Homo sapiens: one gene and its partners. The protein of the gene in region 2 interacts with the protein of the main gene of each other region in a biochemical or structural test. Each region holds a gene or a part of one and is shown on either strand. Other genes may lie near its edges. The genes, in order: RASA1, IGF1R, PTPN11 and ARHGEF12.

Evidence for each region.
Region 1: the proteins of IGF1R (region 2) and RASA1 form a complex in vitro, tested with the Homo sapiens proteins (one study listed by BioGRID).
Region 3: the proteins of IGF1R (region 2) and PTPN11 form a complex in vitro, tested with the Homo sapiens proteins (one study listed by BioGRID).
Region 4: the proteins of IGF1R (region 2) and ARHGEF12 form a complex in vitro, tested with the Homo sapiens proteins (2 studies listed by BioGRID and IntAct, with this or other methods).

The regions. Positions count from the first base shown.
Region 1 is NC_000005.10:87,262,959-87,270,894, reverse strand, and holds the start of RASA1 (ras GTPase-activating protein 1), read right to left. Parts: upstream 3,013-7,936; 5' UTR 2,444-3,012; coding exon 1,905-2,443; exon of another isoform or gene 1,848-1,904; coding exon of another isoform or gene 1,840-1,847; intron 1-1,839. UniProt on the Homo sapiens protein: Inhibitory regulator of the Ras-cyclic AMP pathway. Stimulates the GTPase of normal but not oncogenic Ras p21; this stimulation may be further increased in the presence of NCK1.
Region 2 is NC_000015.10:98,910,532-98,917,553, reverse strand, and holds part of IGF1R (insulin-like growth factor 1 receptor isoform 1 precursor), read right to left. Parts: intron 6,240-7,022; coding exon 6,113-6,239; intron 4,511-6,112; coding exon 4,272-4,510; intron 1,591-4,271; coding exon 1,423-1,590; intron 883-1,422; coding exon 678-882; intron 1-677. UniProt on the Homo sapiens protein: Receptor tyrosine kinase which mediates actions of insulin-like growth factor 1 (IGF1). Binds IGF1 with high affinity and IGF2 and insulin (INS) with a lower affinity. The activated IGF1R is involved in cell growth and survival control.
Region 3 is NC_000012.12:112,484,944-112,491,965, forward strand, and holds part of PTPN11 (tyrosine-protein phosphatase non-receptor type 11), read left to right. Parts: intron 1-1,519; coding exon of another isoform or gene 1,520-1,531; coding exon 1,532-1,686; coding exon of another isoform or gene 1,687-1,690; exon of another isoform or gene 1,691-1,980; intron 1,981-3,499; coding exon 3,500-3,567; intron 3,568-4,080; coding exon 4,081-4,232; intron 4,233-4,240; exon of another isoform or gene 4,241-5,045; intron 5,046-6,074; exon of another isoform or gene 6,075-6,481; intron 6,482-7,022. UniProt on the Homo sapiens protein: Acts downstream of various receptor and cytoplasmic protein tyrosine kinases to participate in the signal transduction from the cell surface to the nucleus. Positively regulates MAPK signal transduction pathway. Dephosphorylates GAB1, ARHGAP35 and EGFR.
Region 4 is NC_000011.10:120,479,408-120,486,429, reverse strand, and holds part of ARHGEF12 (rho guanine nucleotide exchange factor 12), read right to left. Parts: intron 6,471-7,022; coding exon 6,000-6,470; intron 5,171-5,999; coding exon 4,854-5,170; intron 1,993-4,853; coding exon 1,923-1,992; intron 1,364-1,922; coding exon 1,353-1,363; 3' UTR 1-1,352. UniProt on the Homo sapiens protein: May play a role in the regulation of RhoA GTPase by guanine nucleotide-binding alpha-12 (GNA12) and alpha-13 (GNA13). Acts as guanine nucleotide exchange factor (GEF) for RhoA GTPase and may act as GTPase-activating protein (GAP) for GNA12 and GNA13.

The DNA of each region.
Region 1 (7,936 bases), on a different chromosome or scaffold from region 2:
TGAACCAAACTCTGACGAAAGACTTGAATCCTTTATTGAGGAATATAAAAAGTGGAATACTACATCCCGTTGGCTGGCATAAATATGACTAACTTTACTTTTCCCCTTTAAGTATCAAAAGATGTAGCCTTAAGTCAAAAATGGATTAGGGTAACAGAATCTTTTCCTAATTAGTTTCAGAACTTTCTAAATGCTCCAAAGAAGCTTATCCAAAAAAAAAAAAAAAAAAAAAAAAAAAAAAAAAAAAAGGCCGGGCACCGTGGCTTACGGCTGTAATCCCACCACTTTGGGAGGCTGAGGCCGGCGGATCACCTGAGGTCAGGAGTTCGACATCAGTTTGGCCATATGGCGAAATTTCGTCTCTATTAAAAATACAAAAATTAGCCAGACATGGTGGCATGCGCCTGTAATCCCAGCTACTAGAGAGGCTGAAGCAGGAGAATCTCTTGAACCCGGGAGGCGGAGGTTGCAGTGAGCCGAGATCACGCCACTGCACTCCAGCCTGGGCAACAAGGCGAGACTCCATCTCTGGGGTGGGGGGAAGGAAAAAAAAAAAAACCTCTGAATTGTCCAGAGTGACTGTCAACATATGAACCAAATCTTTTTTTCTTGATATTCAACAAAGTTGTCAAAATTCTTTTTTTTTTTTTTTTGAGACAGAGTCTCGCTCTGTCACCCAGGCTGGAGTGCAGCGGCACGATCTCGGCTCACTGCAACCTCCGCCTCCTGGGTTCAAGCGATTCTTCTGCCTCAGCCTCCCAAGTAGCTAGGATTATAGGCGCGTGCCACCGCGTCCGGCTTATTTTTGTATTTTTAGTAGAGACAGGGTTTCACCAGGTTGGCCAGGTTGGTCTCGAACTCCTGACCTCAGGTGATCCGCCCACCTCAGCCTCTCAAAGTGCTGGGATTACAGGTGTGAGCCACTGCGCCCGGCCGGTTGTTAAAATTCTAAGGGTCAATTAAGGGTTATATGAGAAATCTATAACAAGTTTTGCCTAATAACACTTCCCATCTCAACATTTTCATCAAGGTCCACCTTTAAGAATAAACACCTAAGTTCAATTAAGACAAGTGAGGAGGAGGTATTAACTTACATTTTAAAAAAGTCATTGTCCTGTATATTTTACAGACTGTAAAACTTAATTTTTAAATAGAATACTATACTGGCCACCAACAAAAAATGTTTAAGGGAAGCTCTATTGATTTTGTTTTGCCTCACTGTTGTACTTCCAAAGTCTCCACTATAAAAGCAGTGCGTTAATATTAAGTGGCAAGCCTATGGAAGAAGATACATTGTTGGAATATAGGCTCTTAATCACACCTATAATACACAGGATTCCTTTCCTTTCTCTCTGACCCAAGTTCTCATTAAGTGACCCAAAGACTCTTCTGCATCACTATGCTTTCTCTAATCAGAAGCTGGGCTGTGCACTGAAATAAAAACATTCTAACCAATACATTTTTCAAATTATTACTATAGTACTCGTTTAAACACCTGTATTCAAAGCTTCTCACTAATCATCTAGCTTTATCAAGTAACACACACAAGTTAATATACACTATGACTGCCTTGGTAGCCGCAGTTTGACTAAATTCTGGGACACCACCTCAACTTGGAAGGGACAGAACTATATCCGGTTCTCATTAGATACACATTTTCTCATGCTTTCCATCTTAAAGACTTTACACTTTCCCAGAGGAGCAATAAATGTAGGAAGACGCCAGGTAGTATGCCTGTAAGGAAGATAAGTGATCAGATTAAATTCCTACCCAAGAAACCTGAAACTTCAAAAACTTTTCCTAACAAACCACAGATGAAAAGGACAAAGTATGATTTACCCCTTCATTTCCACTTCTTTTCTGGAGCCAGCTTCCCAAATTCCTGAACAGCAGTCTTAACTTACTGGTTAGTTGGAGGAGCGGTCAACGGTATGGCCACCTCTTCCTCCTCGTATTCTGGTCCATCCAGAGAGTCACCTTCGTCCACTGTCCCGAGGCCCGCCCCCAAAGGGGGCAGGTAAGGGGGAGGGGGCAGAGGGGGAAAACCGCCGCCTGGCCCGAGAGTCTCAGCAAGCAACGAAGTGGGCAGTTTGGTGAGAGCCATGTCTCCACTAGGTCCAGCAACAGCAGCACCGGCCACGCCAGCAGCAGCACCAGCTACGCCAGCAGCAGTACCTCCCCCTGTCAGTCCAGCTCCCCCCAGTGCCCCTGCCACAGACCCGGCTCCTAGGAACTCTGACCCCAAAGCGGCTCCGCCACCCAGAGTTCCAGCCACTCCGGTCTCCACCAGCCCAGGATAGGGGGCGGCTGCCACAGGCAGGGCCGCGGGTATCTTCACCCGACACACTGCGGGATAGGCACTGGAGCCCGCTGCCGCGCCGCCTCCTCCAGCTCCGGCTGTTACCGGGCCGCCCTCCTCACTGCCGGCCTCGGCCGCCATCATGTTGAAGCCCGCTCTACTCTGCCCTACCCTGCCCGCCCGGGAGCCCCAGGGGCCACCAGGCCCGGGCTCCGAGCAGCCCCACCCAGACGCGTCTCCCCTTCAGCTCCCCAGGCTGAGGAAACAACAACAAAAGGAGAGAGCCCGCCGCCGCGCCCCCTCCTAGGGCCACAGCCCAGGCTCCCCAGCTGCCTGGGTTACGGGAAGCCAAGTGGGCAAAAAACCCAACGCCTGCACAAACGCCACCCAAACCTCACCGCACACACCCACACTCACGCACACAAACACATGTACAGAAGCGAAAACTTCCTCGCTGCACTAAAGAGGAAAGGAAGCACAGGGAAAGAGGCTGAGGCTGCTACCGCTCCTTCAGCCGCCACCACCGCTTCTTCACCACCCCAGTTCCGGCCACCCACACCGCAGCCACCGCCGGTGCCGCTGCTGAGGCTGGGGCCACTGCAGCCGCTTCATCCTCCACCAGGCAGATGAGAGGGGTGGGGGGGCAAGAGAAAGGGGGGCGGGGTAACGAGGAAATCGACTGAACTGCTCACTACCTGGAGCTCTCAGTGAGTGAAACGGGAGAGAGAGAAAGGAAGGCGGGGCAGGGGAGGAGGGACGGAGGGAAGGAAGGGCGGAGAAGGGAGAGGGCAGCTTGTGCGCAGGCGCGTTCCCGGAGCGGGGGCGGGGGGCCGGGCCGGGAGGAAAAGGAAGAGTCCAGAGGGAAGGAAGCGGCGGGGACGCGCGGTGCGTGGTCGCGCTTGCTGTCCTCCTCCGGTTCCAAGCGTGTGGCGGCGCGGCCGCATCTCCTGTTGGCGTGGCCGGCGGCGCGCGCCTGTCTCCCGGGGCTTTGTTTGATGGGCGGGAGAAGAGGGAAGGGTACCTGAGCACGCGGGTGCTTGGCGCTGTTAAAGCCGGAGAGACCAGAGGGGGACCAGGAGGCGGTGGAGAGGAAGGAGGGGGAAAGGGAAAGGAAAATGCCCAGAAACTAGTTCCGTACTTCCTGACCAGTGGAAAAAACAGCCTTAACCAGCAGCGCAGAAACCGGGCAGGGGTCAGGTAGCTTTGAAGATCGGGGCAGTACTATTAATGTTTTCTTTTTCGTTGCATGCTATAAATCACTATGACTATCTCACACACACACAGTTAAAATAGATTCTGAAACTCCAAAACGAAATAAAGGGCACCATATGAGAAGGGTGAAGAATTTGAGTAGAAATAGTGGTTATGAAGTAAGATTTCTACCAGTATTTGCATACGTTTTTCTTTATCAACTGTCTCATATACTTACCTATGCCATTATAAGTCTGTTGGATACTGATGAAGAGGAGGAGGTGCCACAGAAAACACTAATCAATGCACTTTTGTCCTGGTTTGTGTGCAAAAGACTGCAGGACGTGATCCACAATGCAAGCACCTTCAACAAGTCAAATGTCAAGAATGTCCCAGAATGCTAGTTATAATTATATATCGTTTCAAAAGTAGCAATAAACTGAAAACTCATTTTTAATACAATTAAGGAGAAGGGTGTTATTTTGTCTTTTACACTAAAATGTATACAAACTATGCATTCATGTAGAGGGAGCTTCCCATGGTTTGAAATTAACAATATTGTTAAATTCTCCCAGGAGTGATCCCACATTAAATACCATTGGATATTGATCTTTGAGATCAATATTTTCTGTGCTAAGGATGATCAAACTAACACTCAGGATGGCAAGTGGCTGTGATAGAAACCCAGGAAAAAGAGAAAAGACCACTAAAAGACGTGACAAGATACAGGCAATGCATTGCCTTTGTAAGTTTGCACAGGCCTATTTACCTAGTCAATGACAACAATCCAACTTGATTAGGAGTAGTCCTGGGGCCTCCATTACGCATATCTCTTAGCAGTGTGCTACCTGGGAGAAGGAAGATGGACCAGTCACAGGAGCTAGAGTTCTCAAAGTGAATTCAGGCCGCAACATCCTAGGAATTCAGAAATGCCACCTCAGACCTTCTGAATCAGAAAATATGCAGCGATCCATTTTAACAAACCCTCCAAGTGATTGTTTGCACACTTAAGTTTGAGAACCACTATATTAATGTATAGTATACTAATCAAGAAGGAGGTATGCAATACCTAAAAACGGTTCTGAAAGAAATAATAAATGTCATTCATTAGGTGGGTAGGTAAAATAGGCGGGTTTTGAGTTGCCAAGCTCTGTGCTGTTCTAGAAATGAGAATGAAGTAGTTCCATAATACTTAATAATGAAGTACTACTTATGGTGGCCTCCCTGAGAACAGTTTTCTTTTAAACTTAGACCCTCAGTTAGACAAGACTATCAAAATACCTACTCTACTTACTGTCTGCTGTGTGAACACCAAGTGCAACAATCCCAACAAATCTTAATATAGCCTGTGCTTGAAAACCTCCAGTGTGTTAGCATCCCAATCCTCCAACATTCCTGTCCCAGTCACCACTGTCAGCCCTTGAATGCAGGACATTGAACTGGCAGGTTATCACCGGCTCTTGGTTATCACTGATTTCTAAATGTTCACACACCCTCTGTATGTTGCCTGGGAGTCCAGGTGAGGCTCACTACTCTTACTGCAGAATTACCTCCTCCTTTTTGACAATTCTTTAGCACTTGTAAAGGTCAATATTTAATGCAGTCTAACACCTATCAAATGCTCAATTAAATGTTTTCTAGACTTTTAGGTGTATGTACCTACAAAACTGTACTGCAAATACAACCTGTGGTCTATTCTACTGCCTAGCCCAGTCCTAGGCAACCTCAGTATGCTACTTTGAACAGATCTTCATCCTTTTAACAAATACCAAATTTGATCAGCTCCCATCTTTGGAAATCAATTTCTTAACCAGTAGGAAATAACTACTATGTCTATTTGTAAATCAGCCTTATACCAATATCTTACCTAGTTTTTGTTTAGCCTTAGAGTTAGCCCTGTTCTTTTCCTCCAAAGAAATTGCCACATATTTTTATGAGGTATTTTCAGATATTTAATATATTCCTATTATTGGATAGATCTAGGCTCTAATCTTTACTATTGCTTGTGTACTTTCTGAATCTCAAATACGTTGTCTATCTTTATTTTCATTTTTTCCAAAAGGATTTAATGTTTCTACTTAATTTTTGTCCATTGCCTTTCTTTTCTACCCACCTTAACTTTCTGCCCAGTTAACAAAGGGAAGTAAACTATCTTAATTAAATTCACAGATATTAAACAGGGAGGTATTGAAAAACAGAATAGTACACAAAAGAAAGAAAATTCAAAATATATTTTACCTTTAGTAAAATAAGCTATTATATCTGTGATTTTAGAAAAGTTACTCTGGATCTTGAAACATAGTATTTAATGAAGACTAAATAATAAAAAGTGCTGGACAAAAACTTGTGTATGAAAAGAAACTGAAAATTTAAGAAATGAAGTTGGCTCATTCTGGTTTCATTGGCAACTGAAATATGAATGTGGCCGGGTGCGGTGGCTCACGCCTGTAATCCTAGCACTTTGGAAGGCCGAGGCGGGCAGATCACAAGGTCAGGAGATCGAGACAATCCTGGCTAACACTCCAGCCTGGGTGACAGAGCAAGACTCTGTCTCAAAAAAAAAAAAAAGAAAAAGAAATATGAATGTACTACGTTCCAAAATATTTTATAGTTTTGATATCTTGAGTATGTGGAAAGGTAATTCTAACTCAGTAACATAACTGTAATTTTAGAGGACCTTAGAGCATAGGTAAGAATAGTTTCTGATGGGAGGACTAACCAAGAAGTAATAAAGAGCTTACTGCTGTGTTTGAAGAATGCCAAATTGTGTTCCATGCCCTAGTACATATTGAGTTACACAAATAGCCTTCCAAATTTACCTAAATAGTATCAAAAGGTTTCATTGACCCAATAATTTTGAAAGAAAGCCTTTACTTCTAACCCTAATGTCCCCACTGCATTTATTGACTTTATCTTAAAACCCTCCAGAGCACAAATTTTTTTATTACAAAGATCTTATGAGAAAATAACATCGAGGAGATACAGGTTAAAGGAAATACTTTGATGAAAAGGCAAATAACTCTGCAGAGATTACAATATGTGGTATAATAACTAAGATTTATGAAAATTATAAATACCATAGAGAAATTGAAGAACTGTGTGATGATCTCTGAGGCTGTAAAATAAATTACAAGGTAAATTATCCAGAGCTCTCTCAAAACATTCAAACCAATATATGAGTAAAGAAGATTAGAACAGTTAGATCTAAATATCTCTTAAAATATAAAATAATAGAAAAATATATTTTTTTTTTTTACTTTATTCCTATTTTGTCTTTATATTGCAGATACTTCATTATTTTTTGTCAGAACCTTTCCTCCTTCATGATTTCTAGTCTCTTTTTCTTTACCTATTATTTTACTCTGACCAGGCACATTTATGTATTTTCCTTTCTTTGCCTGGCTCCTATATATGATAGTACCTCATGGTAGAAGTAAAGGAGAAAAGGGAACGGAATGGTTTCAAGGCAAAGAATGTGGGAGAGTCGGGTGGGTAGGACTTTGCCATATTTCCCTCATTATTACACTCCCATTTTTCACAGATAATATTTTTTGAATATGCCAGCAACAATTTAAATAGCACCTGAAGCACAGTCATGAAATCCAACTAAGCTTTGGTCTTTTCACCTCAAGAATCCTGCAGTCTCTAATTCAAGTTACATTCTTTGGTCTACCTGAGAGTCTTCCAGGAATGCTTTCACTTGCAAATTCAGTTAGTATGGCAATACACACCGCTCTTTAAAGTAACTATACAATGAAAGGGCTAAGTGGAGCCTTGAGTCAGATAATTATCATAAATAAGGTGAGAGCTTTAACTACTGCAAATGCACTGTAAGTAGTGTAACTTTACTCAACTAAAAACAGCTTTCTATTTCTAACTATAATTATTTCTCAATCCGCGTGCTCTTTTGAAGACTTTTCAACTTCACTTGTTATCTTACTAGAACTCTTATTTTTCAACTTCCTATTCACTGTTTATCGAATAGTTTTTAAAAAGCAATGAAATATGACATGTAAATATAATGGTATGTATCAGTGATGTTCAGACTTCTGGGTTTCATAGACTACTAAAGTTTCCACAAAAATTGAGAGACTACAGAATTGCCAATTATGAGTTTGCCAATGTTGTGAAGAGAGAAGTATTTTGTTATTACAACAAAACTGCCATTTCCTGCTGCTTTATTTCATAAAAGGAAAGGACATTTCAAAGCAGGGAGAAAGAGGGAAGGAGGAAAGAGAAAGGATGGAAATAATTTTAGAAAAAAAAGGAAAAGTCCTTAGAATTACATAAATTTAGCTTCATGAAATATTCATCATATATTATGTTCTTATTTTATCTTTTTCCATGGATGCATTAAAAATTGGCATTGAAGGCCAGGCATGGTGGCTCAAGACTATAATCCCAGTACTTTGGGAGGCCAAGGCAGGAGGATCACTTGAGCCCTGG
Region 2 (7,022 bases):
AGTCCTGCTATGAACGTTTACTTTCCTCTGCTTTTGTCCCCACTCCCCAGAAACCAAGACCACAGCAGAGGAGCAGAGTCCCTGGGGCAGGGGCTGTGTTGCTTTGAAAGACAGAGTAACCACGGAATAAACAGCCAATGCAGGCTGTCGCCCTACACTGCTTCCCAAACTTACTTGTACAGGATGCCTGTGGCACCTGGCTATGTTTTGAAGTCAGGCCCTTTCCAGCACAGACTCTGACTTTTTTCCCTCTTGCTTCACTCCTCCTCTGTGAGGCTGAGAGAGGCAGTAAAGATAATTAGGAAGGGCAGAGATGGACCCAAATCCTGGCCTTTCCTCTCACCAGGCAGCAGCTGTCAATACTCTTTGAGTTTCCCCTCCCTGCCTCTACCACAGGGTGCCCACCTGCTCTCTGTGGGGGGTTGTGGCTGAGACAGCAGTACCTGTCACACCGGTGGCCCCAGCAACCCAAGCCCTGGTCCCTGTTCCCTTCAGGGCTGACTGGCTTCCGCAGGGACTCACTTCACCGAACCTGTCATCTTTTTCGGCTCCGTCTCAGTGGCTACTGTATTGTACCCCCCAGCTGCTGACTTACACACTACCTGGTGGGGAGAAAGGCAACAGAACCGGCCTGAGCAGTGGGTTTTGCCAACTGAAATTTCACATGAGCTGGGTACCTGGGCACGAAGATGGAGTTGTGCAGGAAATTCTCAAAGACTTTGCGGTATTCAGCCTCCTCCTTCTCGGCCTGCTTCTCGGCTTCAGTTTTGGGGCAGGCGCAGCAAGGCCCTTTCTCCCCACCACACACCTCAGTCTTGGGGTTCTCTGTGACCTCCTCAATGTCGATGGTGCCGTCGGCATACTTCCTGATGGGGATTTTGTCTTCTCGGAAAAGAAAAGCCAAAACAAGAGTGGGAATGAAAGCCGTTATACATGCTTGTAAGGAAAAATAATAGCTCTCAGTACCTTTAATCAAGAAGATAGCTGGTCTCGGCCAGATGTGGTGGCTCAAGGCTATAATCCCAGCACTTTGGGAGGCCGAGGCGGGCAAATCACCTGAGGTTAGGAGTTTCAGACCAGCCTGGGCAACATGGTGAAACCCCGTCTCTACTAAAAATACAAAAATTAGCTGGGCATGGTGGTGCATGCCTGTAATCCCAGCTACTCGGAATGCTGGGGAATGAGAAATGCTTGAACCTGGGAGGCAGAAATTGCAGTGAGCCATGATCGTGCCACTGCACTCCAGCCTGGGCAACAGAGTGAGACTCTGTCTCAAAAAAAAAAAAAAAAAACCAGAAGATAGCTGGTTTCCAATGGAGAACTACACTGTTGTCTGATACGTGTAATATTAGGGCTCAGGCACATTACAACCACAGGAATGAACGGTCACACCCTCCGTCCAGGCCGCTGCTGCACCCTTACCTTTGGAGCAGTAATTGTGCCGGTAAAGGTAGCCGTCCTGAGGCTGCCGCTGCCAGCGCACAATGTAGTAACTCAGGTTGCCGTTGGGCAGAGAGGGAGGGTTCCACTTCACGATTAACTGAGAAGAGGAGTTCGATGCTGAAAGAACGTCCAAGGGAATGGAAGGAACTGGAGAGGGGAACAAAGAACATTCTAGAAAATGAAATGAACTTAAGAGTCAGGCTATCAGATACTCTGGCAAGCCAACAGGAAACTGCCAGTTTGACCTGGATAAGAAAATAACAATGAACAATGAAATACAAAGTGAAAAGTGAACCTTATTTTGAAATAGTACTACTATAAATGCCAACATTTCCCTTTATAATCTATTTCCTCCGGTAATCTCTGTGAAAACAAACATTACTGAGTTGTAAATGGAAAAAGGCTGCGGGGGCACAAGCAGGGTTAGAAGAGACAATGTGAAAATCTACAGCTAATTCAAACACCTGGTATTTCTCATTTATTACAACTGCCATTCTCCACAGTGCTGCACTCCGGCAATTTCGACAACTGGTAAAACAGGCTGACTTGGATTTCATCTGAGATTTTGAATCTCTGATAAAAATGTCATGAAGCCAAATGGAAAGAGGAAGTGGAAAGGGGCCTGGAGAGTCTGTGTGTGTGAAGGAGTGTGCATGCCCATGTCACAGCTGTGTGTAAGAGGGATGGGGGAGAGGCAATGCAAAGAACACGGAAGTCCACCATTTCCACAGGCATCCTTCAGTACAATGACTGAGGCATGACTCTGAAAAGCAGTTTAGAACTGCAAACGCATGGAAGCCTCATTTTGAGCAAAGGACTCTGTCACCAGCAGAATGAATGCCGATTATAGGCAAAGCATAGTTATCTGATCAAGCTTTACTTATGCTGACCCCTGAACTGAAACCCAGAGCTGAAGTGTGCATAAAGATCAAATGCATCCCAGAACCACTGAAATCTTGTCCTTATTGGGTCACAAAAAAGCATCAATGTTGATGGTTTTTCAAAGCACAGGAGACACCTTCACTGGATATCACTTAAGCAATATGTTTGCCTAAGCCATTTTTAAAACTTGAAAAGGGCGGACAGCTTGAGGGTGCTCCAGGTTATACGATACACACAAGGTTCTGAACATCTTTAAGGGATGATACTTTGGAAAAAGGTTATGACTAATACTGGCGTTTTCAGAGAAAACACAACCACTTGATGCTCAGCCACTTTAGGGTTTCCAAAAATAAGTACTTCAAAAACAAACAGCTCATTCCTAGATACATTCTTACGATAGGTGTCACCAAACAGCAGAGGCAGAGGACCAAGTTCTCGTCTGTCTCCGCTGCGTGTAAGGACAGAGGACAAAACGTAGTGAACTGACTCATTGGTACAGTGCCTGGTTTCCATCTTTGTGGAAAGGAAACAGGTTTCTTGAGAATCTGTCACAATAAGCAGATATTCCTATGTTTCCCAAACACTACAGTGAATTGCTGGCCAGGGGTTACTTCCAAATTTTAAGATGAAAAACTTCTTCTGTTGCACTGAACCTCTGCTACACCAACCCACACGCAGGATCAGAAGCCTGTGCCAATTTTGTTTCAATAAGCACTTTACCCAGTGACATGACTGTGGCCACTTACAGGGTCATGGAGATGGGGTAGGAGTGGAGGAAGGAGCAGGCGTGCACAGCAAAAGGTTTTCCCCACCAGCATTTTCTTCTCACCCTCCTCTCTGCCATTTAAACTGATTTTGTGCTCGCTTATGGGTATTTAAAAACACCTTACCCACTAAAATAATGGCTATTATCAAAGAATGTTTATCAGTGCTATAGAGTGAATGCCTGTGTCCCCTACCAAAACTCACATGTCAAAATCCTAACCCCTAAGGGGATGGAATTAGGAGGCATGGCCTTTGGGAGGTGATTGGGTCATGGGAGTGAAGCCCTCATGAATGGAATCCAGGCCCTTCTATGAGAGGCCCCGGAGAGTGCTCCCGCATCCCTGCCACCATGCAAGGACACAATGAAAAGACAGCCATCTATGAGCCAGGGAGTGGGCCCTCACCAGACACCAAATCTGCCAGCGCCTTGATCTTGCACTTTGTGGCTTCTGGAACTGTGAGAAATACATTTCTATTGCTTATAAGCCACCCAGGCTACACTGTTTTTTTGTGATAGAAGCTCCAATACACTAAAACAATCAGTGTCTTTAAAACTGAAGTGGATTTTCCTACTTCTAAACTAGTTTTTATATACTGGAAACTATTAACGTTTGCTTTTACTGTTTCCAGATCTGGAGTTGAGAAATGAGATGGTTTAGAACCTAAAGATAAAGGAAGGAGGAACCTCATCATCAGTGAATACTCTGAATATCCACAACATACTACATCTGCAGGCTTTCAACTTTTGTTGACCTCTTTGGAACTCTATAAGCTCCAGAATGAAGATGGAAAACCAGTGAGCTACATGAATTAAGTGGAACACAGATCAGCATGGTTTCAGTTCCTGGAGGATTGAACATCAAAACAAACAAGAAACAAGGGCAGCTGAAGACGGCTGTTTCCAGGCTGGGCCTTCCAATGAAACCAGCCCAGCACCCTGGAGGACCTGGGCTCACAGGCACAAAGCAGGAGATGATGGAAGATAGTACCGAGGCCAGAAAATGGCACAGAAGAGCCTAATGTGTTAGCAGTGGGGAAATGAATATGACACAGTATTACCTATTGACAAGAAAGACAACAGGCATAGCTCACTGCTAACCCTACAATGACACCTGGTACAAGCAAGGCCAGTGAGCTTGCGAAGAAGTGTGGATGCTGGGGGCTTGTCTAGGCATGGATACCTGAAGCATTGGTGCGAATGTACAAGATCTCACTCTTGGCCCCACGGATATGGTCGTTCTCCACCATGGTGAGGGTCACAGCCTTGACGTAAACGGCGTACTGAGTCCAGGGCTTCAGCCCATGTAGTAAGATGCCGGGCTCCACGTCCTTGTTGGGCGGGAGGTCCACGTCCACCATGTTCCAGCTGTTGGAGCCGCAGGCATCCTGCCCATCATACTCTGTGACATTCTTAAAGGGTCTGAAAGACAATTAAGTTCAGAGAAAGTTCGGGGCTCTGACATCAAAACCCTCAAAAATCTTCCCCAGAGGCCCAGCATGTCACACTTTCTATAATGGGAGGTCTAAATAAACAAATAATCAATTAGACTTTTATAGAAGAAGAAATGAAGTGACTGGACTCTGGGCTTCCCCAGTCGGGCATTACAGAATTGAATGGTCTGCCTCAGGAAGAGCCACTTCAACAGTTACTGGGATTCAATAGTTACTATTCCTTAAGAACATATGCAAAAACTATTTTTCTCTCTTCTGATTGCAGCATTTTTTCATCAAGAAAAAAACAAGCATAGTCAGTTAATGCAAATATCAGATATTGAAAGAAGGTAACTGTTGGAGAAAAATGACTTTCCTACAGACAAACAGAAGTAGCTTCTAAAATTCAGATTGCTCATAAACAATTCTGATGCTTAAGCATCTTATAATATTCAAATATTTAGTTTCCAGATTGCCTTAGAAACCAGCATCAAGTCCTCAGTGAAATTACCAGCTGACATTGCCAAAGCACTGGTGTGACTATCAGAGAATATAGTACTTCGCACAGATGCATGGTTGGGTAGGTATTTTATATTTATCAGCTAAAAGGGCTGGACAGCTGCTGGCCGCTGGCTTCTGAAACAAACATGAACAAAACACCGTCTGCTGTCATGGGATGGGAGATCATGAGGGGCTCCCCTGTGTACAAACTCTGAAAGCCTAGTAATCCTAAGTACCCAATTTCTCATTCATAGGACCCCAGCTCTGGCAGGAGGAAAGAGTACAAGATGCTGTCATAAGGTGCCTCTGGTTGCTGCTCTTTGGAAGCCACACATCTGGGAGAGAGAACTATGGGATTAACATGGGACCTGGGTAAGGGGGATGGCTAAGTAGACCGGGGTAGCCACCTGGATATAGAAGGCAAAGGAAGGAAGAGGGAGATCAAAGAGGGCTGCAGTCGGGAGGAATAAGCCTCGGCTGCTTAGATGGGGGAATGTCATGTGATCACACAGGAAAAGCTCCCAACAGAGTCTAGGAGAAGTCACAAAAGGCTCAAGACATGAAGGTTGTTCTCTCTCCACTTTTCTTCGCTTGTTTGGAAGGCTCATGACCTAGAGCAGAGGGCCACAGCTTGGGAGAGGCACACAGAGAGAGAGACAGGAATAAGATGATACAAAAGAGCCACGTGCCTGCAGGGTGTTCCTGGAGTAGGCCTAGTAGGTAAGGAGGCTGAAACGATATTTCAGTGAAGTCCCCCATCATCGTTCATGAGTCTGGACTGACCTAATTCTGGAAAAAGCAAGCTTTCCCCATTTTGGGTTTATTTTATTCAAACACCTCTAATCACTCACTAAAGAATGACAGGCCTCGAGCTAACACTTTCCCAATCATGGCTGTCACTGGCTGTGACTGACATCACAGGGACAGCCCGAGAGGGTGCATGAGGATGAAGTAGGGATGTTTGGCGTGGCTCTCCCTGGGGACTCTGCTGACCCCCTGTATTCAGCCAGCCCATTCAAGGATCGAAAGACTGGCCTCTCCCATTCGTAGCCCTGTCAACAGAATGGCATCACCCAAAGCAGAAACTCACGCTTCCTTGTAGTAAACGGTGAAGCTGATGAGATCCCTGTAGTCAGGGGGCCGGTACCGGTGCCAGGTTATGATGATGCGATTCTTCGACGTGGTGGTGGAGGTGAAATGCAGGACGTCACTTTCACCTGGGGCAAAGAGTACATCCGTGAGTGACAGAGATTCATGTGTCTCTGAAAAGCACCTGTCTTGCTTGGCACTGCTTCCCCCTTCCCCAAAGCTGGCTGTATATGCTAAGTTCCCTTCTGGGCTTCCTCAGTGGCTTTCTCGTTTTCCACTAAGAAATCATACATTTCACTATGCAGAGCTCCAAGGGCTCCATCCTTTGTTTTAGGTCAATCAGTTACGCTGGCTACTTGCCCAGGGACTTGGACATGAACCTGGGTTTCCTAACCTGAAAACAAGGGGCGACTTCAGTGAACGAGGTGAACTTATCTTTCTTCTCCATCCCTAAGATCCTGGCTATGAAAGGGGGCCTGGTAGGGTGAAGGTGAGCCTTTAGGCTGCCCTGAAACTTCTTAAGAGAGACGATGACACTTGTTCTGCAGTTGTGGATATCTGCCTGTTCGTGTACAACCACCAAAGACAGGTAAGAGACTACAGGTGTGCCACAGAAAGGAACTTTTCTTGGTCTAAACTTGGTATCAAACTGGAAGGACACAGGAACTCCTGTGAGGCCTCCAGCTAGGGCTGACAAACAACGGGAGGCTGGATTAAGCACTGACAAGAAGATCTCACTTGGCCAAGCCTAACGTGCTCTATGGGAAGTAGCCTGGCTGGCGGGTATGGCAGGGAAGCTGTGCCAAGTGTCTCTCTTATTCCTTGGACCAAATTCAAACTACGATAAGGACCAGGGAAAGACTGATGACTGCCCACCCTCATGGAGACCCAGAGCTCTCTGACGAATTGTC
Region 3 (7,022 bases), on a different chromosome or scaffold from region 2:
TGTCCTTTTACATCCCTTTTAAAAATGTCACTTAAGGCTGGGCAAAGTGGCTCATGCCTGTAATCCCTGCACTTTGGGAGGCTGAAGTGGGTGGATTACTTGAGGTCAGGAGTACAAGACCAGCCTGGCCAACATGGCGAAACTCCTTCTCTACTAAAATTAGCTGGATGTGGTACATGCCTGTAGTCCCAGCTACTCGGGAGTCGAGTCTGAGGCCCAAGAATTGCTTGAATCGGGGAGGCGTAGGTTGCAGTGAGCTGTGATCAGGTCACTGTGCACCAGCCTGGATGACAGAGTGAGACTCTGTCTCAAAAAAAAAAGTCACTTAGCTTAGATTGTCTCTACATATATAGGAAGAAGATGTAGGAATGAATGGTGCTGCTACAATTACGTCATCTGGATAGACCCAGAAACATGATACTTTTTGGTTTTCTGTAGCCTTGGTGCCATTGTTGATCTTTATTAATTATCATTATCCTCAAAATAGCCATAATGTGCTGAGTCTCTTCCTATTTGCTGGGCAGAGGCTGAGTATTTCAGCGAGCTCACTGAGTCCTTAAAATTGCATTATGATAGAGAGAAAGAGATTATTATTTGCATTTTGCAAAATGAAGAAATTGAGGTTTAGAGATACCCAAGGGCCACGTGAGTGTGAGTGCCTGGAATTGGAGCCTAAATCTAGTCATCTGATAGCAAAGCCTGTTTTCTTATCTGCTTTGCATTAAATATAAGTTTAAAATAGAACAATACTGGCCAGGCTGGGTGGCTCACGCCTGTAATCCCAGCACTTTGGGAGGTCGAGGCAGGCAGATCACCTGAGGTCAGGAGTTTGCAACCAGCCTGGCCAATATGGCGAAAGAAACCCCATCGCTACTAAAAATACAAAAATTAGCCAGGCATGGTGATGTGTGCCTGTAATCCCAGCTACTTGGGAGGCTGAGGCAGGAGAATGGCTTGAACCCGGGAGGCAGAGGTTGCAGTGAGCCAAGATCACGCCACTGCACTCCAGCCTGGGCAACAGAGTAAGACTCTGTCTTGGAAAAAAAAAAAAAAAAGAATGATACTATAGTCTGTGTTTATATGGTGGGGAAGGTTGAGTATCAAAAAAATAACAAAGAGGAATGAATGTCTTAAGTGAATGCCTGTTTCCCCATCTGCTTCCTCTTCTGCTGGGAGGAGAGACCTGGATCCCTAGAGGTTTCAGTTGCCTCCAGAGCTGAGTGCCACAGGGATGCAGGGGAATAGGGATGTTACCTGTCGCTGGTAATTCAGAGAGATGATTCAGGGTATAGTTACCTGAAAGAACAAATTGCCATGCCAGACGTCTTGGTTCTTATGACAGAGGCAAAGAGTTGCCTCCAGGATTGCCCAAAAGGAGACGAGTTCTGGGAACCTCACGAAGAGGACCTTTCAGTGGAACCTGGGGAGATTCTCTTCCTCTCCATTGGATTTAGGAAAGCTTAGAACCGGGTGATTCCTCAACCTCTTGATTTATTTAATTCTTTTCTGGTTTTTCTTGGCTCTACTCCAGGGGAATACGGAGAGAACGGTCTGGCAATACCACTTTCGGACCTGGCCGGACCACGGCGTGCCCAGCGACCCTGGGGGCGTGCTGGACTTCCTGGAGGAGGTGCACCATAAGCAGGAGAGCATCATGGATGCAGGGCCGGTCGTGGTGCACTGCAGGTGACAGCTCCTGCTGCCCCTCTAGGCCACAGCCTGTCCCTGTCTCCTAGCGCCCAGGGCTTGCTTTTACCTACCCACTCCTAGCTCTTTAACTGTAGGAAGAATTTAATATCTGTTTGAGGCATAGAGCAACTGCATTGAGGGACATTTTGATCCCAAGGCATATTTCTCCTAGACCCTACAGCACTGCCATTGGCCATGGCCATGGCAACATGCTCAGTTAAAACAGCAAAGACTAAGTCAGCATTATCTCTGAGTCCACCAGAAGTTGTGCATTAAACAACTTCATCCTGGCTCTGCAGTTTCTCCTTATTCTTCATGATGTTTGCTTTGTAGCTGTTGACTGCTTTGTAGGTATTGAGGTGGTGGGGGTGTGGTGGAAATAGGCCTGACTCTTGAGGATCCCTTAAGTCATTTTTGCTTGGTTCTCTTTTTCCTTCTTTTCTTCTACTCTTCTATGATTCATCTCTTTGATTGTGATTCTGTTCTCTCTCTCTCTCTCTCTTTTTTTTTTTTCGTTTTTGAGACAGAGTCTTGTTTTGTTGCCCAGGCTAGAGTGCAGTGGTGCCATCTTGGCTCACTGCAACCTCCGCCTCCCGGGTTCAGGCCATTCTCCTGCCTCAGCCTCCCAAGTAGCTGGGATTACAGGCATCTGACACTACGCCCGGCTAATTTTTGTATTTTAATAGAGACAAGGTTTTGTCATGTTGGCCAGGCTGGTCTCGAACCCTTGACCTCAGGTGATCCACCTGCCTTGTCCTTCCAAAGTGCTGGGATTACAGGTATGAGCTACCATGCCCGGCCCATTCTGTTCTCTTCTACCATAAATATATTTCTCCCCTAACACTATATTTGTTTGCTTCACAAGATTCCAGCTGCTTTTCCACCAAGGCCTTTGATGGAAGCTGTGCTGTGACCTCTGTAATGAGTCTGTGGGCTGCTGATTCTCCAGTTTGGGCTTCATGATTATACTGGGGAATATTGGGTTTCCTAAATCTCATTCATTTCTTGGGCAAGTAGATATATGTGAAAGTGTTTATTTGTCCAGTTGTTAAAGAAGCTACCATTTATTGAGCCAGCCTCTGAGCACAATGTTTTTTGTTTTGTTTTGTTTTTAATTTTTAAAATTATTTACTTCTTCTATTTCAATAACTTTATTATTATTATTTTTTGAGACAGAGTCTCACTCTGTCACCCAGGCTAGAGTGCAATTGAGCGATCTTAGCTCACTGCAACCTCTGCTTTCTGGGTTCAAGCAATTCTCATGTCTCAGCCTCCCGAGTAGCTGGGATTACTGGTACGTGACAACATGCCTGGCTAATTTTTGTGTTTTTAGTAGAGACGAGGTTTTGCTATGTTGGCCAGGCTGGTCTGGAACTCCTGGCCCCAAGTGATCCTCCTGCCTCGGCCTCCCAAAGTGCTGGTATTATAGGTGAGAGCCACTGCGCCCGGCCCTCTTTCAGTAATTTTGATGTATTTTTTTGTATATGATTCCTGTTTCATTCTGTCCAACCAGCACTCTGTATGGTATGTGCTGTTGTCCCCATTTCACAGATGCAGAAATTAAGGGTCAGAGAGGTTAAGGGACTTACCTCAGGCACGTTGTACTGGAGAAGCTGAACTCCAAGAGCAGGTTTGGGCTGACTCCAAAGCCCTATGCTTTTTGCCAACATATTTTCAAACATAAATAGACAATTTTATAAATAGCTCCAAAGAGTAGACATTGTTTCTGTTGATATTAATGGCTTGGTTTTGAGTCTGAAACCCCCATGAATGATTCTGTTGTCCCTGCTTTTTGTCCTTCTGCCCGCAGTGCTGGAATTGGCCGGACAGGGACGTTCATTGTGATTGATATTCTTATTGACATCATCAGAGAGAAAGGTGGGTCATCTGGTGGGCAAGAAGCGACAGTTTCTGTTTTTAGTTTATGGAAGGAAAGTGCTCACGAAAACAGTCTGGGGAAGAGAGGTTGAATGGGAAAATTCTTTCACAAAAATCTGGGCTGAAGACTTCAGTGTGTCTGCCTGAGAACAGAAGTGACACTATTTGAGCTTTTGGCATAAAATGAAGTCTAGGAGCTGCAGAACCCACTGCCATGGCCTTTTGTTGCATACACAGTGGTGGTCTCTATCCAGCCACCTGACCTTGTTTACAGTATGGGGTGATTTGTTGGCAAGTGAGGGAATCCTGACTTCTGCCACTTCGTTATTTATGTAGTCTTCTGGGATCATTGGTATTGGTCAGAAGTTCAACACTGTAGCCATTGCAACATGCTCAGTTAAAACAGCAAAGACTAAATTAGCATTGTCTCTGAGTCCACTAAAAGTTGTGCATTAAACAACTTCATCCTGGCTCTGCAGTTTCTCTTTATTCTTCATGATGTTTCCTTCGTAGGTGTTGACTGCGATATTGACGTTCCCAAAACCATCCAGATGGTGCGGTCTCAGAGGTCAGGGATGGTCCAGACAGAAGCACAGTACCGATTTATCTATATGGCGGTCCAGCATTATATTGAAACACTACAGCGCAGGATTGAAGAAGAGCAGGTACCAGCCTGAGGGCTGGCATGCGGATTCTCATTCTCTTGCTAGGCCTCTTGGATACGCTCTCCTTTTGAGCAGGAGGACAGGCTCTGATAGACAACTGTTTGATTTCGGAATGGGAAACAAACTCCCAACTAAAAGGGCCTCTGGAAACTGTCAATTATTCTCCACTTCTCAGCTCTGATTTTTCACTGCAGAGGAGCTTAGGGAAGGGCACCATCCTATCAGCCTGGCCTGCCAGATTGAAGAACTGCCATGCAGAAAGGTTCTGATGTTCTCAGGCTCATGTGGCAAGCGTAAAACTCAAAGCCTTGAAGTTTCTAGCCTGTTCCAGCCTTGATCCAGGCCATGTTTATCCTGATTCCATCCTTTAAAACGAATGCCTCACTCTTAATAGCGCACGGCAGTTTGAACCACTAATTTGGTCGAGTTGGAAACAGTGAAATTTCAATTTTAATAAGCTGTGCATAATGAAGAGGAATGTGGAATTGGAGCCTTTCCATCTGAAGCTATTCATAACAGGCACAAAGCTGAGTTAATTAGGAATATGCTGAGATGAAGGAAATGAGGAGAGCTGCTCTTTTGGGGGCTGTGCTTCTCTCCCCAACCCCTCAACCCCATTGCCATGCTGCAGATGGGGTGGTGTCTAAACATCAGTGGCGAGTGCCTGCATTACTCTGCTCGTTGCCTTCCAGAGAACTCAGCTTCTCCAAATGCTGAGCTCTTTTCAGAATGGGACCTGCCACCAGTATTTGAAAGATTTCTAGCCTAGCAGAACAGCAGCCACGTTATCAAAGTTTGGTTGGCCAAAGGAAGGTACTTGCTAATTAGTTTAGTAGGTTTTCAGTCCGCACAGACATACGGGATTGTTTTATTGTACATAGACATCTTCAGAAACAGTGTATGTATAGAAATGTAAGGTCAAAATTTGAACCTCAGTGCTTTAAATCTGAATTTGTATTAACTGATATGAAATATTTAGACGGTTACTTTATTTTATATCTGTCTTCCATTATACTTAATTTGGCTCAAGAATAGTTAGGCAAAAAGTTGCCCAAAGAGAAGGATCTCCTAGTAAATACAAAGAGAATGTAACATAGTTGCTACAAGTTGGAGCATGTTCAGGGATGTCTTTTTTTTTTTTTTTTTTTGAGAGAGAGGTCTCTCTCTGTTGCCCAGGCTGGAGTGCAGTGGTGTAATCATGGCTCACTGCAGCCTCAATCTCCCAGGCTTAAGCGATCCTCCCACCTCAGCCTCCCAAGTAGCTGGGACTATAGGCATGCGCCACCACACCTAGCTAATTTTCGCATTTTTTGTAGTGTCACAGTTTCGCCATGTTGCCCAGGCTAGTCTCGAATTCCTAGGCTCAAGCAGTGCTTCTGCCTCAGCCTCTCTGAGTAGTTAGGACTACAAATTTGTGGCTCCATGCCCGGCTAATTTTTTTATCTTTATTTTGTAGAGACAAGGTCTCACTGTGTTGCCCAGGCTAGTCTTGAACTCCTGGGCTCAAACAACCCTCCCACTTTGGGTTTCCAAAGTGCTGGGATTACAAGTGTGAGCCACTGAGCCCAGTGACCTCTGGGTTTTAAAAATGTGTAGGCTTCAATTATTTATTTTAAAAAATGAAATCCTGCAATATATAGTTTTCTGCGTTGTGTGGTTTGAATCAATCTGGGAACTGGCTTGCTGGCTGATTGTGGTAAAGTAAGAAGTACTTAATTTAGTAGAAAGTTTAAATGGCAGACATAACATTAAACCCAGCTGATTTATAAATGAAGCAAAAGAACAAAACTCATTCAGGATAATTGGTTATTCTAAAATACAGTCATTTCTAAAATTATGAAGTGTTCAGGACCTTTGGGAGTGAAAGAATTTGCTAAAGAAGGATCAGTGAAAAAAAGGAATGATGGGTGAAGAGCTGTGGAGAAGGAAGAGAAGAAACAGCACAAGGAAGGAAGAATATAAAATCAGATGTGGGAATCCAGGGGAAAGTGCAAACGAAGCAAGATTGAGAAAATTCTCAAGTTTTTATAAACAGTTCTCACACTCTGCCAGTTCCTTGGAGGTAGACTTTTTTGTTAACTTCCAACTACAGTAGTGAAAAAAAAAAAAAAACCCTCAAATTTGCAAAAGCAGTCTGTGGAATTTTCTTTACCCAGCTTTCCTGACTGTTAACTTTTTAGCACACTTAACTTTATCATTCGTTTATTCTCTCTGTTTAAAATTAAAAATGTAAATTTTAAAAAGTAAAATGTTTGTTGGTTACAAACATTTATACCCCTTTGTCTCTAAATATCATTTCATTTTAAAAAATGAATAATCTAAGCCTACACATTCTAAAATGTGTATATTTTCTAAAAATAAGGGCATTCTCTTACATAACCAATGTCACAATTATTTGATACAGTGATCAAAATCAGGAAACTAACATTGATATAACACTATTATCTAACCTACAGACCATCTTCAAATTTTGTCCTGCTAGTATCTTTTATGGGTCCAGGGTCACACAGTGCATTTGGCTATAATGTATCTTTTTTCTCTTTTTTTGAGACAGGGTCTCACTTTGTTGCCCAGGTTGGAGTGCAGTGGTGCAATTATGGCTCACGGCAGCCTTGACCTCCTTGGGCTCAGGTGATCCTCCCACCTCAGCCTCTCGAGTAGCTGGAGACCACAGGTGTGCACCACCATGCCTGGCTAAGTTTTGTATTTTTTGTAGAGATGGAGCTTCGCCGTGTTGCCCCGGCTGGCCTTGAACTCCTGGGCTCAAGTGACCCTCCCGCCTTGGCCTCC
Region 4 (7,022 bases), on a different chromosome or scaffold from region 2:
ACCTTGCCTGCAGTGTCCAGTGTATGTGCTGGTCTGCAATTTTTAGGGTCAATCACGGCCCCGTGTGGAAAGAGCTGCGGCAGTGAAGTCAGAGGACGTGCTTCTGGAGCTGGTGTGAGCAGTTCTGCCTTCACCATATCTTTTTCCACTCCACCCTTGGCTATCCTTTTGACTCAGGGCCCTTTGGCACCATCAGTGCAAAAATTAGAGTCAAACCTCCAGGTACTAAAATTTTACTGGCCTTATAATCAGCAGTACCTGTGGCTAATGATAGCCATGATTCAACTCAGTAGTGATTCAGTTAGATAACCTTCCCAAACTCTTTACCCACTCCCATCCCACCCTTTCCTTAGCAACCCCCACCCCTGCCACTATCCGAAGCATTTCCATTTGTTTTTACTTCCTGCTCAATCTGCAGGGACAGTTTTACACAAGTGCCAATGTCTAATGTATAATTATAAAAATGAAATGATACCAAGAATAACAAATTTATAGTCAAGAAAATAAAATTTGCTTTCCTCTCCCACCCAAATCCCAACCCTCAATAGAAAAGACGACAATGGAAGAAAACACACCCATTTTCAAGTGCCTGCTATTTAGTATGTTGAGGATTCCTATTAATTGTGGTTGATCCCAGCTACAGAGAAGAGGTGCTTGCCTCAGGGCGGGAGGAAGCCCATCCACTCTCTGACCACACCACCTGGGCACATAAGAGCCACACGGCATAGCATACCTTTGAGGTGACCCTCAGAGAAGCAGCCTACTGGACAGCAGAGAGCTTGGAATACTGTATAGTGAAGCAAGGTGCTCCTCCCTTCCCCGTCTCACTTCCTCCTCTTCTTAACCTCTCTACCCAACTTCTGCATACTCCATCCTGACCTCTTTGCTTCAGGAGCAGTTGATCCTTGGGTGTACTAAAGACAAAGGTCTAAAACTCTCACTACTCAATTAAAACAAAACAAGGCAAATAAAAATTAAAATGTGCTTTCAAATACGGAATGAAGTCAAATAAATACATCTGATTTTCTCTTTTTCTTAAATCTAAGTACAATTTCATATCCTACACCCAAAGCTCTATACATTTGGTTTTTATTCTGAATCAAAATGAATTTCCGATAGTGAGGAGAGTAGAGTGAGGGAATGGATATTCCCTCACAAACAGATTAGTGCAGCTGCCACACTGTGAAGAACTAGTCCCACTCTGGGCACCTTGGGACTTGACTAATCCCAGGTGGTTCACAGGCAGATCCTCTGTCACACTCTCTCTGCATCCACACTGGAGCCAGGATGTGGTGAGACACGGCCGATACTCCAAATCCAACAACCTGCAGTCACCTCCAGGACATGCGGCTCTAACTTTTATCTGAGAAGAATAAAGATACATGGAAATGATATTAAGAAAAAGAATATACTAACATTGCAAAGAATACCCATGACATCTGTGGGCGTGGTTCAATCTTTGTTTCTGAATCAGTATGTAAGCAGATGAGTATAAACTGCTGCAGGGAACACAAATCCATCTGCAGTCAGGGGAGACACCAGCCACACTGTCAGCAGAGGCAAGTGCACCAACATCCAATAAGGCCAAATCCTCCACACTAGGGAGTCACAGCAGTACCAGTAAGCCTCACACCGAATCTGTGATTTACCAGGCTTCCCACTGCTCTGCCTTCTGCTTTGAAAAGGTGAAAAGAGAGAGAAGAGGGGATGGTATGGGAACTGACAACTGCAGTTCCTCTTAGAGAAGAGTAGAGTCAGCAGGCATGAGCTTCCGCTTGATATCTGATGTTTAGAAACAGGCAGTTCTTTAAAGACAGAAGAGAAATGGAATCTCAGAAGGTTTTCACTTCAAAGTATGATAAGTCATTTCATTCAGTGTAGGATGATTAGTCTAGAGTCTGGAACTCATAACTTTTACATACCTGAGTGCTTGTCTGTGAGGGCTGATCCAGCCAGCCTTTGGCAAAGAATGGTGTAACTTTCCTCCACCTTCTGTGAAATAAAACCCATAGGTTTTTTATTCAAACGTAATGAAACAAAACAAAACAAAAACTTCAGAAAACAGAAAAGAAGCCCTTTTTACATTACAGGTACAAGCCCCCAAATTTCAAAAATATTAACTTCATCATTAAAAATTTCATTAGTGGGAAGAAAAAAGTAAATTTCATTCCTTTTACCAATTTCTCCACTGAAGGAATAACTTAGTATTTTCCCATGTAAAAAGAAAGTAGAGGTGGTAACCATAGATGCAATTCTCCCACCCCCAGGAGTCACCCTGGACATGGTCCCGTCATCATGTGCATGAGCTATAGTCATGCAGCACATAAAGACATGGCGGCCTGCATACATGATGATGGTCCCTTAAGATTATTATGGGTGGGGCATGGTGGCTCACGCCTGTAATCCCAGCACTTTGGGAGGCCGAGGCAGGTGGATCACCTGAGGTCAGGAGTTCCAGACCAGCCTGGCCAACATGGTGAAATCCTGTCTCTACTAAAATTATAAAAATTAGCTGGGACTGGGCGCGGTGGCTCACGCCTGTAATCCCAACACTTTGGGAGGCCGAGGCAGGCGGATCACGAGGTCAGGAGATCGAGACCATCCAGGCTAACATGGTGAAACCCCGTCTCTACTAAAAATAAAAAAAATTAGCCGGGCATGGTGGCAGGCGCCTGTAGTCCCAGCTACTGGGGAGGCTGAGGCAGGAGAATGGCGTGAACCTGGGAGGTGGAGCTTGCAGTGAGGAGAGATCATGCCACTGCACTCCAGCCTGGGCGACAGAGCAAGACTCTGTCTCAAAAAATATAAATACATAAATAAATTAAAAGATAGAAAAAAATTAGCTGGGTGTGGTGGCGGGCACCTGTAATCCCAGCTACTCAGGAAGCTGAGGCAGGAGAATCGCTTGAACCCGGGAGGCGGAGGTTGCGGTGAGCCGAGATTGCACCATTGCACTCCAGCCTGGGTGACAGACCGAGACTCCATTTAAAAAAAAAAAAAAATTTATCTGGGCATGGTGGTGGTGCCTGTAGTCCCAGCTCCTTGGGAGGCCAAGGCAGGAGAATCGCTTGAACCTGGGAGGCAGAGGTTGCAGTGAGCCGAAATAGCGCCACTGCACTCCAGCCTGGGTGACAGAGCAAGACTGTCTCAAAAAAAAAAAAAAAAAAAAAAGATTATTATGGAGCACATGTAGAAACCTGGTGTGTGGCACTTAATAATGGCATTGCTGATCAGGTAGGGGAAATGACTAATATTCAGTAATAGTGTTGAGAGATTTGGCTTTCCATATGAAAAAATCTATGTAAATAAAGATATATTCTATCTAGGTTTGTGTAAGTACACTCTGTGAAGTTCACACAAAGATAAAAATGCCTAATGATGAATTTCTCAGAATATATCCCCATTGCTAAGCAACACATGACTGTATATAAGAACCGACCTGTCCTCAATGGGCTTGTCGATATCTCATCAGCTACAGAATGATACTACATAAAATAAGTAACATGAAGAGGGAAAAATCAATTATATGAAGGTAAAAGAGAAACTAAGGGAGACCAGTCTTTAACTCAAAGGCTAAGGATACTTAAATCTACCCCTCAAGTCTCTGGTGTAAATGATGTCATGAGGAAAATGTTTGGGCTCTGGAAGCTGTGTTTTCTGATGGCAAACTTTTTTTTTTTTTTTTGAGACAGAGTCTCGCTCTGTCACCCAGGTTGGAGTGCAGTGGCGTGATCTCAGCTCCCTGCAAGCTCCGCCTCCCAGGTTCATGCCATTCTCCTGCCTCAGCCTCCTGAGTAGCTGGGACTACAGGCGCCCACCACCACACCTGGCTGATTTTTTTTATTTTTAGTAGAGACGGGGTTTCACCGTGTTAGCAAGGATGGTCTCGATCTCCTGACCTCGTGATCCGCCTGCCTTGCCTCCCAAAGTGCTGGAATTACAGGCGTGAGCCACCGTGCCCTGCCTCTGATGGAAAACTTTAAGATAGGTCTTTCTCTTGGAAATTGCCACACAAGTCAGTTTTGCAATAGTGACATCTTCAATTACCAATCTACAAAAATCCCATGCATGACCATGTTTTTAGATTACAGGAGCCACTGAAGCCAATTTCTATCTGTCATAGGATTTGGGAAGCTGCCAATGTCACCTAATGAGTCACAGATAATAGGCTACAGAAAGTCATAGCATTTCTCAGCCTAGATTCATAACTACATAAACCCTACCTATCTCATCTTCTTGTTCATGTCTGACAGAGGCCAGCCAACTACCCGAAGCATTTCAGGTTCTTAAACTTAGACACCCATACAAACACACAGTTCACAGAGCTGCAACTTTTTCTGCTCTTGTGATAGTCAAAAGATAAACAATGCCGACTGGGCGCGGTGGCTCACGCCTGTAATCCCAGTACTTTGGGAGGCCGAGGCAGGCGGATCACGAGGTCAGGAGATCGAGACCATCCTGGCTAACATGGTGAAACCCCGTCTCTATTAAAAATACAAAAAATTAGCTGGGCGTGGGGGCGGGTGCCTGTAGTCCCAGCTGCTTGGGAGGCTGAGGCAGGAGAATGGTGTGAACCTGGAAGGCAGAGCTTGCAGTGAGCTGAGATCACGCCACTGCACTCTAGCCTGGTTGACAGAGCGAGACTCCGTCTCAAAAAAAAAAAAAAAAAGAAAGAAAGAAAAAGATAAACAATGCCAATCTCAACTTTTTACCCAGGCCTATTCATGGATAATAGTCAAAGAAATCTAGAACCTGAACAAGTTTATTGACATCAGCATTTTCATCACCCTATTCTTCCCCTCTGCTAAATGTTTCTTACAACCAAGTCCTATGGATGTGGAAGTATGAGGTACCTTTAAGTGTTCAAGGTCAGCCTCTATCTTATGAATGTACTCCATGATCTGGCTCTGTGAATCTGCACAAGAGGAGGGACTCTGGATCTCAAAACAGGAATACTCCATAGCTCCCCAGCGCTGCTGGACCAGAAATTCGGGGGTGAATGGTGAAATTGCCCCATCGGAGTGAGTATTCTGAGGAGAATGTTGCTGCTGGTGGGTGGATTCCACAGCAGGGATGCCTGTCATGGGCTGCAGGGTAAGTGAGGAAGCAACCTCCTCATCTGTGGAACTCTCCTGCACTGGGTCATAGCCATCAAGGATCAAATAGTTTCCTATGGATAGAGACAGAATAGTTTGATAAGACCAGTGCTGCCATTAGAAAACAGAAATAGCATAGTGTGCTGACAACTTCAACTTGAAAAGTTATTAAGAGAGGGAAAAGCCATTAATTCCTGAGTTTAGTTTCAGGTACATCAGAATTTCCTCACTTCAGATGAAAGCTAAACTCTGCAAACTTTCATGGTAATTTCCAAAAAATTTCATTTCAAAAGTTTAAAGCTGGAAACTACAGTGCCTAAATGATCTTGCTACCACTTCCCCTGCCAAACGCCTCTCTTGCCCCATCTCCTGCCATTGTCTCCCTCATCCAGTGTTCGATCACCACAAAAAGCTTGCTCTTTGACACAAAGCCTCTGCCCCACTCTGCTCTCTGCTGGAATAGTAAGCTCCCAGGTACCCACCCGGCTTTATTCCCTCATTTCATTGAGGTCTCTGCTCAAATGCTACCTCATCGGAGGTCCTAATCCCTGATCACCCTGTTTGCCTTCATTACTCTCCGTCCCCTCAGTCTGACTTATGTTTCTTCCTAATACTTCCTGAAGTCTATTTATTTGTTTACTTATTTACCATCCTTCTTTCCCCTAGCTTCATGAGAAGATGGGATTTTTCTGTGTTTTATTCACTGCTATATCTCCCAGCACCTATGATGAGGTCTGGTACAGAGTAGATTCAGTATTTATCAAATGAAGGAATAAATATTGCACATGTGTGAACACACACACACACACACACCTGGATACCAATACAACATCCATTTCAAAATACAGGACAGTTAACAATGATCAAAATCAAAATCAAAGTTTAAGTGTGAAAGATACTTGCCTGAGATGCGTAAATTAACATCCTTCTCTTCCTTGTTAACTGCTCCATCACCTTCTGATGGATTCTCATCACTATGTGCTTCACGGGCATCAAAAAAGTGCTCTCCACTGTCATCAAGACCCCCTTCTGGCTCCATGGTAGGCATCTCTGGGGTCATAATCATGTGGTCCATTACTAAAATGTTACTTGCCTGGCTATCCTGGGGTGCCAGTCCCACTGAATCCCGTGGAGCAAAAGATTCAGTTGAAGTCCGTGGACTGTAACAAGTTGCAATGTCACCAGTTCCAGTTCTAAAGGGCATATGTCCTTCACCAGAATGATAGGCCTTAATATTTTCAGAGTTCTGGATGACACTGTCTGTCTGCGGCCCCTGAGAGGCTGTTCTGTATCTTGGGAAATGTTGCCAGTCTTCCTGAACGCTCTTCTCAGTCAAACCTAGCTGTTGCACCAGCAACTGCTTCAACAAACCCACTAAACGATTTAGGAAGGAGGGGGAAAAAAAACATATTCACAACTATAACCTCAGGCTGCAAGAATTAAATTAGCTGACTTACCAATGATCTATCTTTAAAAAGTATCTTTTAATGACATATTAAAATGTTAATTATTAATTTCATACAATCATCTTACTTCATACAATCATTTTCCATTTTGTTTTGAAGATGAAATAAAGCACCATCTTTTAGAGAAGATTTAACGTTAAACTAAACTTGAAAAGATCTAAGCATTCTGAATAGGGAGATACTACTATTTAGAACTCCTCAATAACCAATATCATGCCTCTATTTTTTCTTCTATATAACTAGAATAATACCCTAAAGGTACTTCTTAAGAATGTTGAAAGGCTGTGTTAAGCTAGACAGAAAAAGCTAAAAAAAAGTTCTGCTTTTTCCAGATCCAGACACTATATGCATATTATTTCCTCTAATTTTATGAGATACATACATTTACTGAAAATAAGAACCAATTTAATTTTGAATGGGCCAAGTGTATGCTATGAGGTCACCCAGACAATGATAGAGT